2 separate regions of the Homo sapiens genome follow, and region 1 is linked to region 2. A link means that fine-mapping ties the variant in region 2 to the expression of a gene that starts in the linked region. Tissue or cell type: tibial nerve. Region 2 holds a variant in brackets; the other region holds the start of a gene. All regions are shown on one strand. Distances are between the middles of the regions.

Region 1 (8,136 bases), 90 kb before region 2:
AAACTGAGGCTTATCGTGCAGGGGGATCAGTCCAGGAGAAGCAACCTGCCTAAGGTCTCAAGACAGAGTCTAGCCTTGAAGCAGGTCTCTGAAGTCTGGCCTTCACTGTGCTCTTCCCTGATTCCTCTCTGTCCCCCCAATCAAATCCCCAGCCCCTCATCCTGGCATTTGAGACTCTTCTTCACCCACCCTGTTAGAGAGGGCCTCTGGTCTTCATCTTCAGTGATGCTCTTAAGAGTCAATCATAGTATTCTAGTATAGTTGGCCAGGGTGCTCATGTCCTCGGCTGAGCCATGTGAGGACAGGATGTTCTTTGCCCAGAGTAACATCTTGTTCCCTGTGCCCTCACTCTTCAGTCTGGACCTCCGAAAGAGAGGGCTGTTCTAGGTCTTTAAGGTCACATCTAGCTCCAAGATACTGTCTTCGCTGAAGGCCAGAGAAGACAGGCCCCATTGGCTGAGACCTTAAACAGAAACCAGGAGGATGAAGAGTCATGGGCCCAATGTGCCCTAGGGCCTGTTCCCATGTTGAAACTACTTGTCTTCATATGCTTCCTAGCTTGCCCTCGCTCCTTTGCAGCAGAGGGCCCTGCTCCTGGGTGGGAGGTTCCTGGGATTTCCTGGGACCAGACCTTTAAAGTGCCACCTACTTCTGTGAGTAGAATCGGATTGGCAGGGACAAAACTAGATTCAAGAATGTCCCTCCTTAGGTGACCCAAAGGGCTGGCACTGGCTCCCCCAGTTGGGGGTGTGCAGGATGGTTGGGAAGGAATCCTATTATTCATTCAGTAAACACTTATGAGTACTTACTGTGTGCCTGAAGTACTGAACTGGGTGATAGGGATACAGCAGGGAAACAAGATAGAGCAAGTCTTTTTTTTTTTTTCTTTGTTGCCCAGCCTGGAGTGCAGTGGCACAATCTCCGCTCACTGCAAGCTCCGCCTGCCGGGTTCACGCCATTCTCCTGCCTCAGCCTCCCGAGTAGCTGGGACTACAGGCGCCTGCCACCACGCCCGGCTAATTTTTTGTATTTTTAATAGAGACGGGGTTTCACCATGTTAGCCAGGATGGTCTCGATCTCCTGACCTCATGATCAGCCCGCCTCGGCCTCCCAAAGTCCTGGGATTACAGGCGTGAGCCACCGCACCCAGCCAATAGAGCAAGTCTTTTTCCTCCTGGAGCCTAGAGTTCAAGACAAATATTCTTAATATTTTTTGTGCCATGGACCCCTTTGGTGATCTAGTGAAGCCTAATGGGACCTTTCTTTTTCTTTTCTTTTCTTTTTTTTTTTTTTTTTTAGATGGAGTCTCACTCTTGTTGCTCAGGCTGGAGTGCAATGGTGCGATCTCGGCTCACTGCAACCTCCACCTCCTGGGTTCAAGCAATTCTCCTGCCTCAGCCTCCCGAGTAGCTGGGATTACAGGCGCCCGCCACCACGCCCGGCTAATTTTTGTATTTTTAGTAGAGACAGGGTTTCACCATGTTGGCCAGGCTGGTCGGGAACTCCTGACCTCAGGTGATTCACCCGCCTCCGACCTCCCAAAGTTCTGGGATTACAGGCATGAGCCACCATGCCCCACCAGACCTTTTCTCAGAAAAAAAAAATTGTTTAAATTCATAAAATAAAATATCTAGAATTACAAAAGAAATTGATTACATTGAAATATAGTTATTAAAATATGGAAAAAGCAAATATGTGCTATAGTATAATCGTATATGTACTCCCCATTAATCCATTAAATCATAAGATTTAATGGAGGGTCTAATGACTATCATGATTTTAAAATAATGATTGAAATTATATGATTTTCAAGAGATCTGCAACATCTATAATGTGATATGAAAATCTCTGATTTCTATTAGTGACAATCAGTACTGCTACTACTGCTGCTACTATGCCTAGTTACATTCTTTATTGAAAAATGCTAAATTTCAGTTAGAGGAGAGGGAAAATAAAGATGTAATTTTGTTTTATTTTTTTGAGACGGAGTTTCAATCTTGTTGCCCAGGCTGGAGTGCAATGGTACGATCTCAGCTCACGGCAACCTTCGCCTCCCAGGTTCAAGCGATTCTCCTGCCTCAGCCTCCCTAGTAGCTGGGATTACAGGCATGTGCCACCACGCCCGGCTAATTTTGTATTTTTAGTAGAGATGGGGTTTCTCCATGTTGGTCAGGCTGGTCTCGAACTCCGACCTCAGGTGATCCGCCCGCCTCGGCCTCCCAAAGTGCTGGGATTACAGGCATGAGTCACTGCGCCCGGCCATAAAGGTGTAAATTTGTTCCCATCCAAATTCATGGACCTCTCCAAACCCTGTCCCCAGCCTCGATTAGAGGTCTGCAGAATACAAATTAAGAACCCTTGCAAATAGGAGGGTCCTTCCCATCTCTCCTTCCTTCTTAAACAGTTTTCCTTTGGAAGCCTGGGTTTTATTCTGGGTCTTACTGCGCCGACTGCCGGCGGTGTACGGTAAGAAGACGCAAAGACGGGGCGGTGGTGGGGAGTGGTAGCGGGAAGAGGCAGGGCCGGAGCGCGCGAGGGGTGGGGCCTGGCTGTGTGACTTCAAGCCAGTCAGTTTGCCTCTCTGGGCCATAAGTTCTGTCCGCCTGAATACTGGGAAAGAATTGGGAGGAGAGAACTTAATTATTTATGCCCCAGGCAACTGATCTATATTTGCCCTCTCATTTAATCCTCACACATTGTGAGGAAAATTTTAAAACATCTTTCCATTTCCAGATGGTTAAACTGAGGCTCCTAGCGAGGTTGTCACTTGACCAATGTCTCAGCAGGTATCAGGGACTGGTAGGTGACACGCCACATCCCCATAGCCACCTCATCCTCCATGCATGGAATAAGGAACTCTGCTCACTTTGAGCGAGAGAAACCTGGCTTAGGAATCTCTGCAGGTGGGTGTGGAACTGTGAGAAACTAGGGGCAGAATCGCGTCTCTTAGCAGAGCGGTGGCAGTGCAAGGTGGCTTATGGAGAGTAAAACGTCAAAGAAGCCAGGCATCTCGATTGTGCAGTGACTCGGCGCCTGGCGTGGCTTCCGGCTTCCCGCCTGCGTATTCCCAAGTAGCCGCCTGAAGACCTGTCGAATAGACAGGCAAAGGGCCATGACAAGCACTCCTTTCCTGGCCAATCCTATTAAAGGGTGGGCTTGGCTCTTTAACCAATCAAAGTCCCCCGAAGGGGCGGAGTTTTCCTCGGTTTGGCTCTAAGCCTCGGGGGTAAAAATAAAATGTTTCCATCCCCAGCCAATCCCTGGAAAGGCAGAAGGGCACTCCTCCAATGGGAGCCGGGGAGCCGTCGGTAGCGGCGTAGGCCCGTGCCCCTGCTCGCGCTGCAGCCCGTGGAAGGGTTCCGTCCAGCGTATCCTTCAGATCTTGCTGTAGGCCTCTGGTGTCTGTGCGCGCGCGGCAGGGGCGGCGGCGGCGACGGCCGGAGGTGTACGGTGAGAAGCCATAAAGACGGGGCGGTGGGGGGAGTGGCAGCGGGAAGAGGCCGGCCGAAGCGCGCGAGGGGTGGGGCCTGCGCGAGCTTTTACTGGGGCGGCCTCTCAACCCTAGGTCAGCGGGTTGCGGAGGATCGTGCGGGTCGCAAAGGGAAGCCGAGTGCTCCTGCGGCTCCCAGACTGCAACCAGGTGAGTACCCTGCGGAGCGGTCGGTGCCCGTTGCTGCCCTCCCGCGGCCCCACCTCCCACCCTCAGTGTCTTTCGAAACGGTTCCATGCAGGTCTGCCGCTCACGTGATCGTCTGCGTGCGTGTCTGTCTTTGCATCCCCTCTCCCATCTCTGTCTCTGTCCCACTTTTTGAGACGTAGTAGATATAAGATGCTGAATCCTGACCAGTTTAAACTAGCTATGAAACCTTGAGCTATCTCCTTCACCAGCCTGGGCCTCAGTTTCCTCATCTGCCAAATGGGGGTCTGATAATGTGTACCTGAGACAATGCATGTGCATTACTTTGCCCTGCACCCGGTCCTTAGAAAATTTTCAATAAATAATGACTATCTTGACTGAAAAGAATATTGTCTCTCTTGGTTTCTGTCTTTTCTCTGTCTCTGACCCTTCCTCCATTGGATCTTTCTGAATGCTTCTGTCTTTCTCTGTTACTGTTTTTCCTCTTTTTACCCGTCTCTTTCTCAACCCTAAAGAGGTTAGAGGTGCATAGTTTATAGCAATAAGTTTTACCCCCGAGGACATGAGCTTAGCCTGGGGCTCCGACCTGTTCTGTGGGTAAAAAATGGAGCCTGGCTTTGGGTTGCTTCTGGTGTCATTGAAGAGAGAACTCTCTTTGCTCCCCAGCCTACTCTGTTAAACAGGTAGAGACACCCAAAGTTGGGAGCAACTTAGATTAAAAACCACTTTTTAATAGCCCCTTATCCTATATAATGTTAGTCACCACAGGAAGCCCACAGATCTCCTGGTTATGTCTCCATACAGCCCTGGACATCCTATTTTCTATTTCCATCCTGAAATCCTTTGACCAGGCCTTAAGGAACTCACCTTCAGTTATCAGCAAAATTCCCTCCATTCTCATCCTGGCTTCTGAATACTCCCTTTATTTTCTTGCTATGCTTTGGTCGTTCTCATACCTGTTGGACCCAACATTGCTTTTTTTTTTTAATAAGGTGTATTTTGAAATGCTTCACTATTCTAAAATGAAATGGATAGAAAATAGAATCTGTCTACACCCATAATTCCCTGAAAACCAATATAATGCCCTAATTGTAATATAGAGAGTAGTAAAGGAAGAGTAATATATAATATTATATTATACATATATCGCACATATATATGCAAAGACTGGGATATGACTCCATTAGAAGACATGATGAAATGGTCTTACACTTAATGATAGTGACAGCTACATGTGTGTTGATTGGTGATTCAGAAGCCACAGGTAGAGTGACACAGTTTTCCTAAATAATGAACAATTCTTCACAAAGTTCTAAACAAAACAATGTGGAAGAGTTTCTCAGTTTATATGGTCGTTAAATTTCTGGAAAAATCAGTATATATTAATATCCATGATGAGACCCTCTTAATCTCCCTGACCTTATCTCCCACCACTCTCCCCCCTTGCTCACTCTATCTACCCATGCTGGCCACCTTACTATTACTTGAACACCTTAGGCACACTTCCGCCTCAGGGGTTTTGCATTCCGTGTATCTGGAATGCTCTTTCCTCAAATACCCACAAGGCTCAGGCCCTTGCTTCCTTCAGGCCTCTACTCAGCTGTCACTTTCTCAGAGGGCCCCCCAACCATCCTGTTTAAAATTGCAGCTCTCCCCTAATATGCCCCTGCTCTGTCTGTTCCATGGTATTCTACACCTTTTTCACAGTGTAGCATTAACTGCTTAGTATGTTTGCTGTTTATTGTCTGACTCTCCCACTCAATTATAAGCTCCAGAAGGGCAGGGATTTTTGTCTTTTTTGTTCTATGATACATTCCTATTACCTAAAATAGTGCTTGACACCTAGTAGACTTTCTCAATGAATGTTTGTTGAATGAATAAAAGAACAAATGAACAGGTTTTTCACCTACATTACTGGTGAGATATTCTAAAGTTGTATGGAATGTGGTATGATTCTTTGTGGTGTGGAGCTGTCCTGTACACTGCAGAGGGCTGAGCATCCCTGGTCCATAGCTAGGGTTGTCACTGATGATCTCCAATTATTGTCACAGTCAAAAATGCCCCCCAAACAGGGCCGGGTGTGATGGCTCACGCCTGTAATCCCAGCACTTTGGGAGGCCAAGGTGGGCAGATCGCTTGAGTCCAGGAGTTCGAGACCAGCCTGGCCAACATGATGAAACCCCGTCTCTACAAAAAATACAAAAATTAGCCGGGTGTTGTGGTGCACGCCTGTGGTCCCAGCTACTTAGGAGGCTGAGATGGGAGGATTGCTTGAGCCCAGGAGGCAGAGGTTACAGTGAGCCAGGATTGCACCACTGCACTCCAGCCTGGGTGACAGCGAGACCCTGTCTCAAAAAAAAAAGCAGTAAAAAATGGGTCGGGCACTGTGGCTCACACCTGTAATCCCAGCACTTTGGGAGGCCGAGGTGGGTGGATCACCTGAGGTCAGGAGTTCAAGACCAGCCTGGCCAACATGGTAAAACCCCGTCTCTACTAATAATACAAAAATTAGCCAGGCCCACATGGTGGCACATGCCTGTAATCCCAGCTACTCGGAAGGCTGAGGCAGGAGAATCGCTTGAACCCAGGAGGCAGGGGTTGCAGTGAGCCAGCCTGGGCAACAAGAGCGAAACTTCGTCTCAAAAAAAAGAAAAAATGCCCTGAAACACCCTTTAATTGTCCAGCCCCCACCTCTCAGTGAGAACCATTGCTTAAGTAGCAGCCTGGCTTTCCCTGAACACTCTGTCCTCCCGGCAGCCCTCTCATACCCCTCTTACCGGGAAACTGGGTGGTGAGGGTGAGGGTGGGTATGCTTGCTCCTAGTTACCCTTTCCAGACATTCTTCCTCCTCAAACAACCCTTTTTTCATTTGTTTTAAGTTTTTTTTTTTTTTTTTTTTGAGACAGAATCTCACTCTGTCACCCAGGCTAGAATGCAGTGGCACAGTCTTGGCTCACTGAAGCCTCCGCCTCCCAGGTTCAAGTGATTCTCCTGCCTCAGCTTCCAGAGTAGCTGGGACTACAGGCATGCACCACCACGCCTGGCTAATTTTTGTATTTTTAGCAGAGACAGGGTTTCACCATGTTGGCCAGGCTGGTCTTGAACTCCTAACCTCAAGTGATCCACCCGCCTTGGCCTCCCAAAGTGCTGGGATTACAGGTGTGAGCCACCAGGCCCAGCCAAGAATTTTTAAACTTAAAATAATTTCAAACTTTTAAAAAGCTTCAAAAATTATACAAGAATTCTCATATATTCTTCACTTAGATTCCCCACATGTTAAGAAATTATATAATTACAGACTGGGCGCAGTGGCTCACGCCTGTAATCCCAGCACTTTGGGAGGCCAAGGTGGGCAGATCACCTGAGGTCGGGAGTTCGAGACCAGCCTGGGCAACATAGTGAAACCCTGTCTCTACTAAAAATACAAAAATTAGCTGGGTGTGGTGGCTTGTGCCTGTAGTCCCAGCTACTTGGGAGGCTGAGGCAGGAGAATTGCTTGAACACAGGAGGCAGACGTTGCAGTGAGCTGAGATCATGCCACTGCACTCCATCCTGGGTGACACAGCGAGACTCTGTCTCAAAAAAAAAAAAAAAAAAAAGAAAGAAAGAAATTATATAATTACAGTGTAACTATCAAAACTAGAAAATTAACATTGATACATACAGGCATATCACAGGTTCAGTTCCAGACCAACACAATAAAGCAAGTCAGATGAATTTTTTGGTTTCCCAGTGCATATAAAAGTTATGTTTACACTGTACCATAGTCTATTAAGTGTACAATAGCATTGTATCAAAAAAAGTATTTACCTTAATTTAAAAATACTATATTGCTAAAAAATGCTAAAGATCATCCCAGCCTTCAGCAAGTTGTAATTTTTTGCTGGTGGAGGGTCTTACCTCGATGTTGATGGTTGCTGACTGAGCAGGGTGGTAGTTGCTGGTTGGGGTGGCTGTGGCAAATTCTTAAAATAAGATATCAATGAAGTTTGGCACGTCGACTCTTCCTTTCACAAAGGGTTTCTCTGTAGCATGTGATGCTGTTTAATAGCATTTTACCCGCAGTAGAACTTGTTTCAAAACTGGAGTCAGTTCTCTCAAACCCTGCTACTACTTTGTTAACTAAGTTTATGTAATATTCTAAATCCTTTGTTGTTGTTTCCAGTGTTCACAGCATCTTCACCAGGAGTAGATTTCATCCCAGGAAATCACTATTTTGCTCATCCATAAGAAGTAACTCCTCATCCACTAACTTTTTTTCTTTTTTTTTCTGAGACAGGGTCTTGCTCTGTCACCCAGGCTAGAGTGTAGTGGCGCGATCACGGCTCACTGCGGCCTCGACCTCCCAGGCTCAAGCAATCTTCCCACCTCAGCCTCCCAAGTAGCTGGGACTATAGGTGCATGCCACCACGCCCAGCCAATTTTTAAAATTTTGCAAAGGTGGGGTCTTGTTGTGTTGTCCAGGCTAGTCTCAAACTCCTGGCCTCAAGTAATCCTCC
Region 2 (8,136 bases):
AAACCAAATCCTGCAGGTTGCTGAATTACAACGCAGGTTGAATTCATAGGATCTCCAGGTCTCATATGCAAAAACATGGCTACTGATTAGGGAACAATGGGACCTTGAGACTAGGAATAGGAACATCAGGATTGATTTGGATAGATCTGAGCACCCTAAACCCCAACCCTCACTGAGTTTCCCCTGGCAGCAGAAGCAGCCCTTCTTCCCCAGTCTATGGGGCTGGTCCTGCCTGACTTGGGGACCCTCTCACTGTTAGGCTAATCTTTTCAAGATCCACCCGTATCATCTCTTGCTGCCTCCAGACCCATTACTGAATTCAGATTCCTGTATGTCCCAGGAAGTAAAGTCAAACCTATGAGGAGAAAGCACACACACACAAATGATAAGATTTAGCTAATTTATACTGGCAGAAACCTCCATAATATGGGTGACAGAGTGAGACCATGTCTCAAAAAAAAAAAAAAAAAAAAAAAAGAAAAAGAAAAAAAGAAACCTCCATAATATGTGAGAACTGATTCTATGGATGATAGATCGGGAAAAAGAAGTGTAATTTTTGATTGGGCCAAACTTTTTTTTTTTTTGAGACGGAGTCTCGCTCTGTCTCCCAGGCTGGAGTGCAGTGGAGCGATCTCAGCTCACTGCAAGCTCCGCCTGCTGGGTTCACACCATTCTCCTGCCTCAGCCTCCCGAGTAGCTGGGACTACAGGCGCCCACCACCACACCTGGCTAATTTTTTGTATTTTTAGTAGAGACAGGGTTTCACTGTGTTAGCCAGGATGGTCTCGATCCCCTGACCTCGTGATTAGCCCGCCTCGGCCTCCCAAAGTGCTGGGATTACAGGCATGAGCCACCCTTTTTTGTTTTTTTTTTTTTTTTGATATGGATTTTCGCTCTTGTTGCCCAGGCTGGAGTGCAATGGCTTGATCTCGGCTCACCACAACCTCCGCCTCCCGATTTCAAGTGATTCTCCTGCCTCAGCCTCCCGAGTAGCTGGGATTACAGGCATCCACCGCCAGGCCTGGCTAATTTTGTATTTTTAGTAGAGACGGGTTTCTCCATGTTGGTCAGGCTGGTCTCGAACTCCCGACCTCAGGTGATCCACCCACCTTAGCCTCCCAAAGTGCTGGGATTACAGGTGTGAGCCACTGCGCCTGGCTGGGCCAAACTTTTTCATTGTGGTAAACTATATATAACATAAAAATTTCTGGAAAGGCTCACTGTAGCTGCCACCTCCCAGGTTCAAGTGATTCTCCTGCCTCAGCCTCCCAAGTAGCTGGGATTACAGGCACATGCCACCACGCCCAGCTAATTTTTGTATTTTTGGTAGAGATGGGTTTCACCATGTTGGCCAGGATGGCCTCGAACTCCTGACCTCAGGTGATCCGCCCACCTCGGCCTCTCAGAGTGCTGGGATTACAGGCGTGAGCCACTGCGCCTGGCCTCCTTTGCCCATTTTTAAATTGAATTGCTTGTCTTTTTGTTGTTGAGTTGTAGGAGTTGTTTGTATATTCTGGATAGTAAATCCTTATCAGATATATGACTGCAAATATGTTATCTTATTCTGTAGGCTGTCTTTTCACTTTCTTGATGTCCTTTGATGCACAAAATTTTTAATTCTGATGAAGTCCAATTTATCTGTTTTTTCTGTTGTTGCTCATGCTTGTAGTGTCACACCTGAGACTGTTGCCACATCCAAGGTCATGAACATTAACTCCTATGTTTTCCTCCAGTTTTATGGTTTTAGGACTTAAATTTAGGTCATTAATCCATTTTGAGTTAATGGTATCTGGTGTGAATTAGGCATCCAACTTCATACTTTTGCATGTGAAAATCCAGTTGTCCCAGCACCATCTGTTGAAGAGACTAATCTCTCCCCTCGTTGAATGGACTTGGCACTCTTGTAAAACATCAATTGGTGGCTGGGCACAGTGGCTCACACCTGTAATCCCAACATTTTTGGGAGGCTGAGGTGGGAGGACTGCTCGAGCCCAGGAGTTTGAGGCCAGTCTGGGCAACAGAGTGAGACCCTGTCTCTACAAAAAAAAAAAAAAAAAAAAAAAATTAGCTGGGTGTATTGGCACATGCCTTTTAAATCCCACCTACTTGGGATGCTGAGGTAGGAGGATCATTTGAGCCCAGGAGTTTGAGGCTGCAGTGAGCCTCAAACTGCAGTGAGCCAAGATTACGCCACTGCACTCCAGCCTGGGCAACAGAGCAAGACTGTGTCTTGAAAAAAAAAAATTGGCCATTTGACTTTGTTCTTTTTTTTCTAAGATTGTTTTGGCTATTCACGGCCCCTTGTAATTCCATATGAATTTGAGGATCAGCTTTTTCATTTCTTTTTTTTTTCTTTTTTTTTTTGAGACGGAGTCTTGCTCTGTCACCCAGGCTGGAGTGCAGTGGCGCGATCTCAGCTCACTGCAACCTCCGCCTCCCAGGTTCAAGCAATTCTTCTGCCTCAGCCTCCCGAGTAGCTGGGATTACAGGCATGGATTACCATGCCCGGATAATTTTTTTAAATTATTTTTAGTAGATACGGGGGTTTCACCATGTTGGCCAGGCTGGCCTCGAACTCCTGACCTCGTGATCTGCCCGCCTCAGCCTCCCAAAGTGCTGGGATTACAGGCATAAGCAACCGCACCCCGCTAGCTTTTTCATTTCTGCAAAAAAGCTGTTGGAATTTTCATAAGGACTGTGTTGAATCTGTAGATCACTTTGGCTAGTATCAACATCTTATCAGTATTAAGTCTTCCAATCTATGAACATGAGATGCCTTTCCATTTCTTTAGATCTTTAATTTCTTTCACCAATGTTTCATGGTTTTCAATATACAAGTCTTTCTCCTCCTTGATTAAATTTATTCCTAGATATTTTATTCTTTCAGATGCTATTGTAAATTGAATTGTTTTCTTAACTTCATTTTGGATTGCTCATTGCTAGTGTATAAAAGCACACTGCTTTTTATGTGTTGATCTTGCACCTTGCAACTTTGCTGAATTTATTAGCTGTATGCCTTTTTTATTTTTTTAAGAGAGATGAGGTCTCATTCTGTCACCTAGGCTGGAATGCAGTGGCATGATCATAGCTCACTACAGCCTCAAACTCCTGGACTCAAGGGAGCCTCCTTCCTCAGCCTCCCGTGTAGCTGGGAGTACAGACACACATCACCATGCCCAGCTAATTTTTAAATTTTTTTTGTAGAGATGGGGTCTTGCTATGTTGCCTAAGCTGGTCTCGAACTCCTGGCTTCAAGCAGTCCTCCCACCTCAGCCTCCCAAAGTGCTGGGAT[C/T]ATAAGTGTTGGCTACCACACCCAGCCTGAAATGCCTTTTCTGCATCAAGTGAGATGATCATGTGTTTCTTTTCCTTTGTTCTATTAATGTGATGTTATTACCTTGATCGATTTTCTTATGTTGAACCATTCTTGCATTCCTAAGATAAATCCCACTTGGCCAAGACGTATCCTACTTTTAATATGCTGTTGGATTTAGTTTGCTAGTATTTTGTTGGGGATTTTGCATCTATATTCATAAAGGATATTTGTCTGTAATTTTATTTTCTTGTGATGTCTTTATCTGGTTTGGGTAGGGCCAAACTTTTCAGTATGGGTACACTCATCAGCAATCCTGGATGTACTTTGTTAGTTGAAGCAGCTAGGAGTATTTCTAAAAATTGTTCTATTGATTGACCAAAACCTCTACTCAATAGTAGCTTGTGTTAAATGAGGTTAAGATGCCAGAAATTCCATGGTACAGTGTAGGCAGGGGAATCCATCGTTTAGGGCAATAAGAATGTTGGAATCGATTAGTCATATGTAACACATTCAACTCACCCTTTTGACTATGTGGACATTGACATTCCTTTCACAGGACTTTGAGAAATACACTGTGGTAGAGACTAGCTAAGTGGTCATTAAACTTGTTTCCTCTTCCTCCTAGGGACAGATTTAGACTACATTTGTCAGTGTCCCTTACAGTTGGGTATGCCCATTGTCTGAGTTCTGGCTAATGGAATATGAGAAGTGATGTGTGCTACATCCGGCTCATAGAAACCTCCCACATGGTCTTTTCCTCTTCTGGCTATTAAGGATGGAGATGACAATAAATACAATGATGACCATGTTTTGAAGATGGCAGACCTTCTAGACAGAAAGTGCCTAAGCCTCTGAATCATCACTTAGAAGAGGGAAACTCAATTATTAACACCTGTTTTGGAATACTACAGAAGCAAGAAGTAAACTTGTCTTAAATCTCAGAAAATTTTTTTCTGTCCCAGGAGCTAGCTTTACCTTAACTAGTACATGAATGAGTACCAGTATTATAAAGCATTGCAGTGATTTATTTCTGCAGGTGAGGGTCATGGTGAGAAATCATGAATGGGCTCCCTGATTTCAATGGAGGTGACAGGTTCATCTCCAAAGAGAAGTTGGGTCTCGTTCTTATAATGGATAGCAGAGCCATAGCAATAATCAGGTTTGACCTGTGGAGGTTTGTATAACAGTGGATAATTAAGGATAGTTTCCCTAGGACCAAAATAGGTAGCCTGATAAAGTCCTAGTTGTTATATAACCCCAATAATCTTCTACTCTGGAAAATGGAGGCCTGATTTTGTCCTCAAAAATGTGGCATCCCAGCCTCTTCCCCAGTTCATAGACCAGAGCCCCTTGAATGAAGGGGAGGGTCCATCTGAAGAAGGACCTTGCTACACTTTTCACAAGTGTGTATGGCAAAATCTCCCTCCTTGCTTTCCTCACAGAGACCTGCAGCCACAGTCATTGTACACTGGGGACAGGGAAATATCCAGGCCTTTGAAATAGACTGGATATTGGTTCTGAATTAATGTTAATCTCTGGTGATCCAGATTGCCACTGCAGCCCATCAGTCAGAGTGGGATGGGGTTATACATGAAGTTTTGATCTGAGTCTTTCTTACACTGGGCCCAGAAGAAATCCTGTGGTGATTTCTCCAGTTCTTGGATATACTATTCGAATCTACACAGTATAGATGGCATAAAGGGGAGGAGGACTACAGCTGAAGAGCAAGTTAAAGATTCAAGAAATGGGGGATAAAATTGGAGGTGGCAATATCGTGACAACAGGAGTCCCAGGAGCAGAGAAAAATAAAAATGGAAAAGTGGGTCTATTTTGTGAATGAATGGCTGAGCATAGGACTCCAAGTGACCCAGGCAAGCTGAGCTCCCCATGGTGAGTTGTGTGTTAACTGTCTCATCAAGCCACGAAGTTATCTATGTGCAGTAGCACTCCACCACCGAATAGAATAGAGTTATACAAGCAGGCCTAGATGATGAATAAGCTGCCTGAGCAAGTGAATCATACTCCCAACTGCTGTACTGCCATCCCTCTCTCACCCACACCTGAAGCCTCATGGGGAATTCCCTGTGACCAGGTGACTAAGGGATACAATATTCTATTCCAGCTTGGTTTATACATAGCCCTGCATGATATGCTGGCCCTGCTGAAGTAGCTAGCTGTAGTGTTACAGCCCTACTTAGGGTTGATCCTGAAGGACAGTGAGAAGGGAAATTCTCCCAGTAGAACAACTGCCTGGTCACATAGCTGGTCAGAGGTATAGATAGGTTTCCACTGTTTCATGAGTAGTTTTTAATGATTCGGCTAAATGGTGAAGGACTTGGAAATAACAGGACTGAAATATTATTGACAAGGTCTGAGGAAGAGCATATGGCTGTCCCTCTTGGAATGGGCAGAGATATTCACGTCCCACATAAATAAGCACCAGAGAGAGTCCACTGCAGAAGAGGAGCTCAATCAAGTAGACAGGTAGGTGTCCTGTTCTGTGATGTCAGTCAGCCTCTTATCTGTCACCCTTTTCTTTGCCCAATGGATTCCTGAACAAAATGGCCATGGTGGCAGGCATGGAGGTTATGCATGGACTCCACAATATGGACTTCCACCACGACCAATCTGGCTATAAGCCACTGCTGAGTGCCCAACCTGCCAACAGAACAGTAACCCAAGCCCCCCTGTGGAACTATTTCTTGGTGGCAGCTGATTACAGACAAGACAAAATGAAAAAAAGCCACTGGACCCCCAAAATTCTACTGGCAGGAAGCAAACTGGGGAAACAGTTCAGCTGCAAACATTTGCTGCCTTTCATGAAAAAGGAAGGCACACAGGGTAAAACCAAGAGATCAGAGGGCAGAGCCTTAGAATATTATTCCCAGGCCTTGACATCTAATCAAGAAACTTCCATTTTCCCAGCTGGATTTCAGAGTTGTTAGTTATAGACCAGTAACTCCTTTATGTCTCCCATTTCCCCTCTTTTTGAACCAGAATGTCTGTAGTAGTTGTCCTATGGCTATCCCACCATTGTACCTAGGGTGTGTTGGGGACAGATAACTTGCCTCTTAAGTCTCACAAATCAGCCAGGCACGGTGGCTCATGCCTGTAATCCCAGCACTTTGGGAGGCCAAGGTGGAAGGATTGAGCCCAGGAGTTTGAGAACAGTCTGGGCAATATAGTAAGATCTCGTCTCTATAACAAAATAAAAATAAAAAATAATTTTCTTTTTTTTTTTTGAGACGGAGTCTTGCTCTGTAGCCCAGGCTGGAGTGCGGTGGCGTGATCTCGGCTCACTGCAAACTCCGTCTCCCGGGTTCAAGCGATTCTCCTGCCTCAGCCTCCAGGCGCCCACCACCACTCCCGGCTAATTTTTTGTATTTTTAGTAGAGACGGGGTTTCACCGTGTTAGCCAGGATGGTCTCGATCTCCTGACCACATGATTCGCCCGCCTCGGCCTCCCAAAGTGCTGGGATTACAGACGTGAGCCACTGCACCCGGCCAAAAAATAATTTTTTACAAAAAAACAATTGTCTCACAAATCTAAAGATGGAGAAAAATAGTAGTTAAGAAGCCATACTCAAACAGCCTCTTTCATATATGGACCTGATTTAGATGTTCTGGATTTTGGGGCAATGCTGTAATTGGATGAGACTTTGAGAGACTTTGGGAAGTGGTGAATGTATATTGCATGTGGAAGCAACATGAATCACCAGGACCAGTGGAAAAACTATAGTTGTCAGTCTCCAAGATGACCCCCAATGACCCCCCGCCTCCTGGTATTCACACCTTTGTGTAATCCCCTCCCATTGAGTGTGGCCTGGACCTAGTAACTGACCTACTTTTTTTTTTTTTGAGACGGAGTTTGCACTTGTTGCCCAGACTGGAGTGCAATGGCGCGATCTTGGCTCACCGCAACCTCTGCCTCCCGGGTTCAAGCAATTCTCCTGCCTCAGCCTCCTGAGTAGCTGGAATTACAGGCACCCGCGACGACACCCAGCTAATTTTGTACTTTTAGTAGAGATGGGGTTTCTCCATGTTGGTCAGGTTGGTCTCGAACTCCTGACCTCAGGTGATCCGCCCGTCTCAGCTTCCCAAAGTGCTGGGATTACAGGTGTGAGCCACTGTGCCCGGCAGTAACTGACTTACTTCTAACGAATAGAATATTGCAAAAGTGATGGGATCTCACATCTGAAATTAAGTTATAAAGACTATGAGTTCTGTCTGGCATGTGGGCACTCTCCTTCTATCTCTAGCTCATCTTACTTGTTTGCTGTGATGAAGCAAGCTGCCATATTATGAGCCACCCTATGAAAGGGTGCACATGGCAAGGAACCTGAGAGTGACCCCCAGCCAACAGCCAGCAAGACTGAATATGCCAACAGCCACATGAGTCAGCTTGAAAGCAGATCTTTCCCCAGTCAAGCCTTGAGATGACTGTAGCCCCAGCTCACACCTTGCTGGCTGTGAGACCCTGAAACAGAAACTCAGCTAAGTTGTGCCCAGATTCCTAACCACAGGGACTGTGAGATAAAATGTTGTTTTAAGCCACTGTTTTTGAGATAATTTGTTATGTAGCAAATATATAACCAATAGAGATAGGCGTGGAGGTTATGTACCTCGGCAATATGAACTTCTAACCTACCAAGGCCACTGTGGCCCTAGCACTGCTGAATTCCCAACCTACCAACAGCAGAGATCAACACTGAGCTCCCACTGTGAACTATTTCCGGATTGCAGGCTGATTACTTTGGACCCCTTCTGTCTAGCACAGGCCTTAGGGTCACAGAGATTTGGTGAAAATCCCAGCTCTGCCAGGC

The links. PIP is the estimated chance that this variant, and not a neighbour inherited with it, causes the effect.
Region 1: KANTR starts here. The variant in region 2 is fine-mapped to the expression of KANTR in tibial nerve (GTEx, PIP 0.93).

What each region holds. Positions count from the first base shown.
Region 1 is chrX:53,090,835-53,098,970 of GRCh38, forward strand. KANTR (KANTR integral membrane protein) reads left to right here and starts at 3,308. Exons shown (of 3, transcript NM_001397448.1): 1 at 3,308-3,450. RefSeq lists enhancers at 2,400-3,224, 2,937-2,996, 3,307-3,426 and a silencer at 3,487-3,636.
Region 2 is chrX:53,181,223-53,189,358 of GRCh38, forward strand. It overlaps a transcript of KDM5C not described here. Among named protein-coding and RNA genes, the nearest start is that of MIR6895, 10 kb to the right of the region's middle. RefSeq lists a silencer at 7,697-7,776 and an enhancer at 7,957-8,136. The variant C/T (reference allele first, on the strand shown) is at 3,293.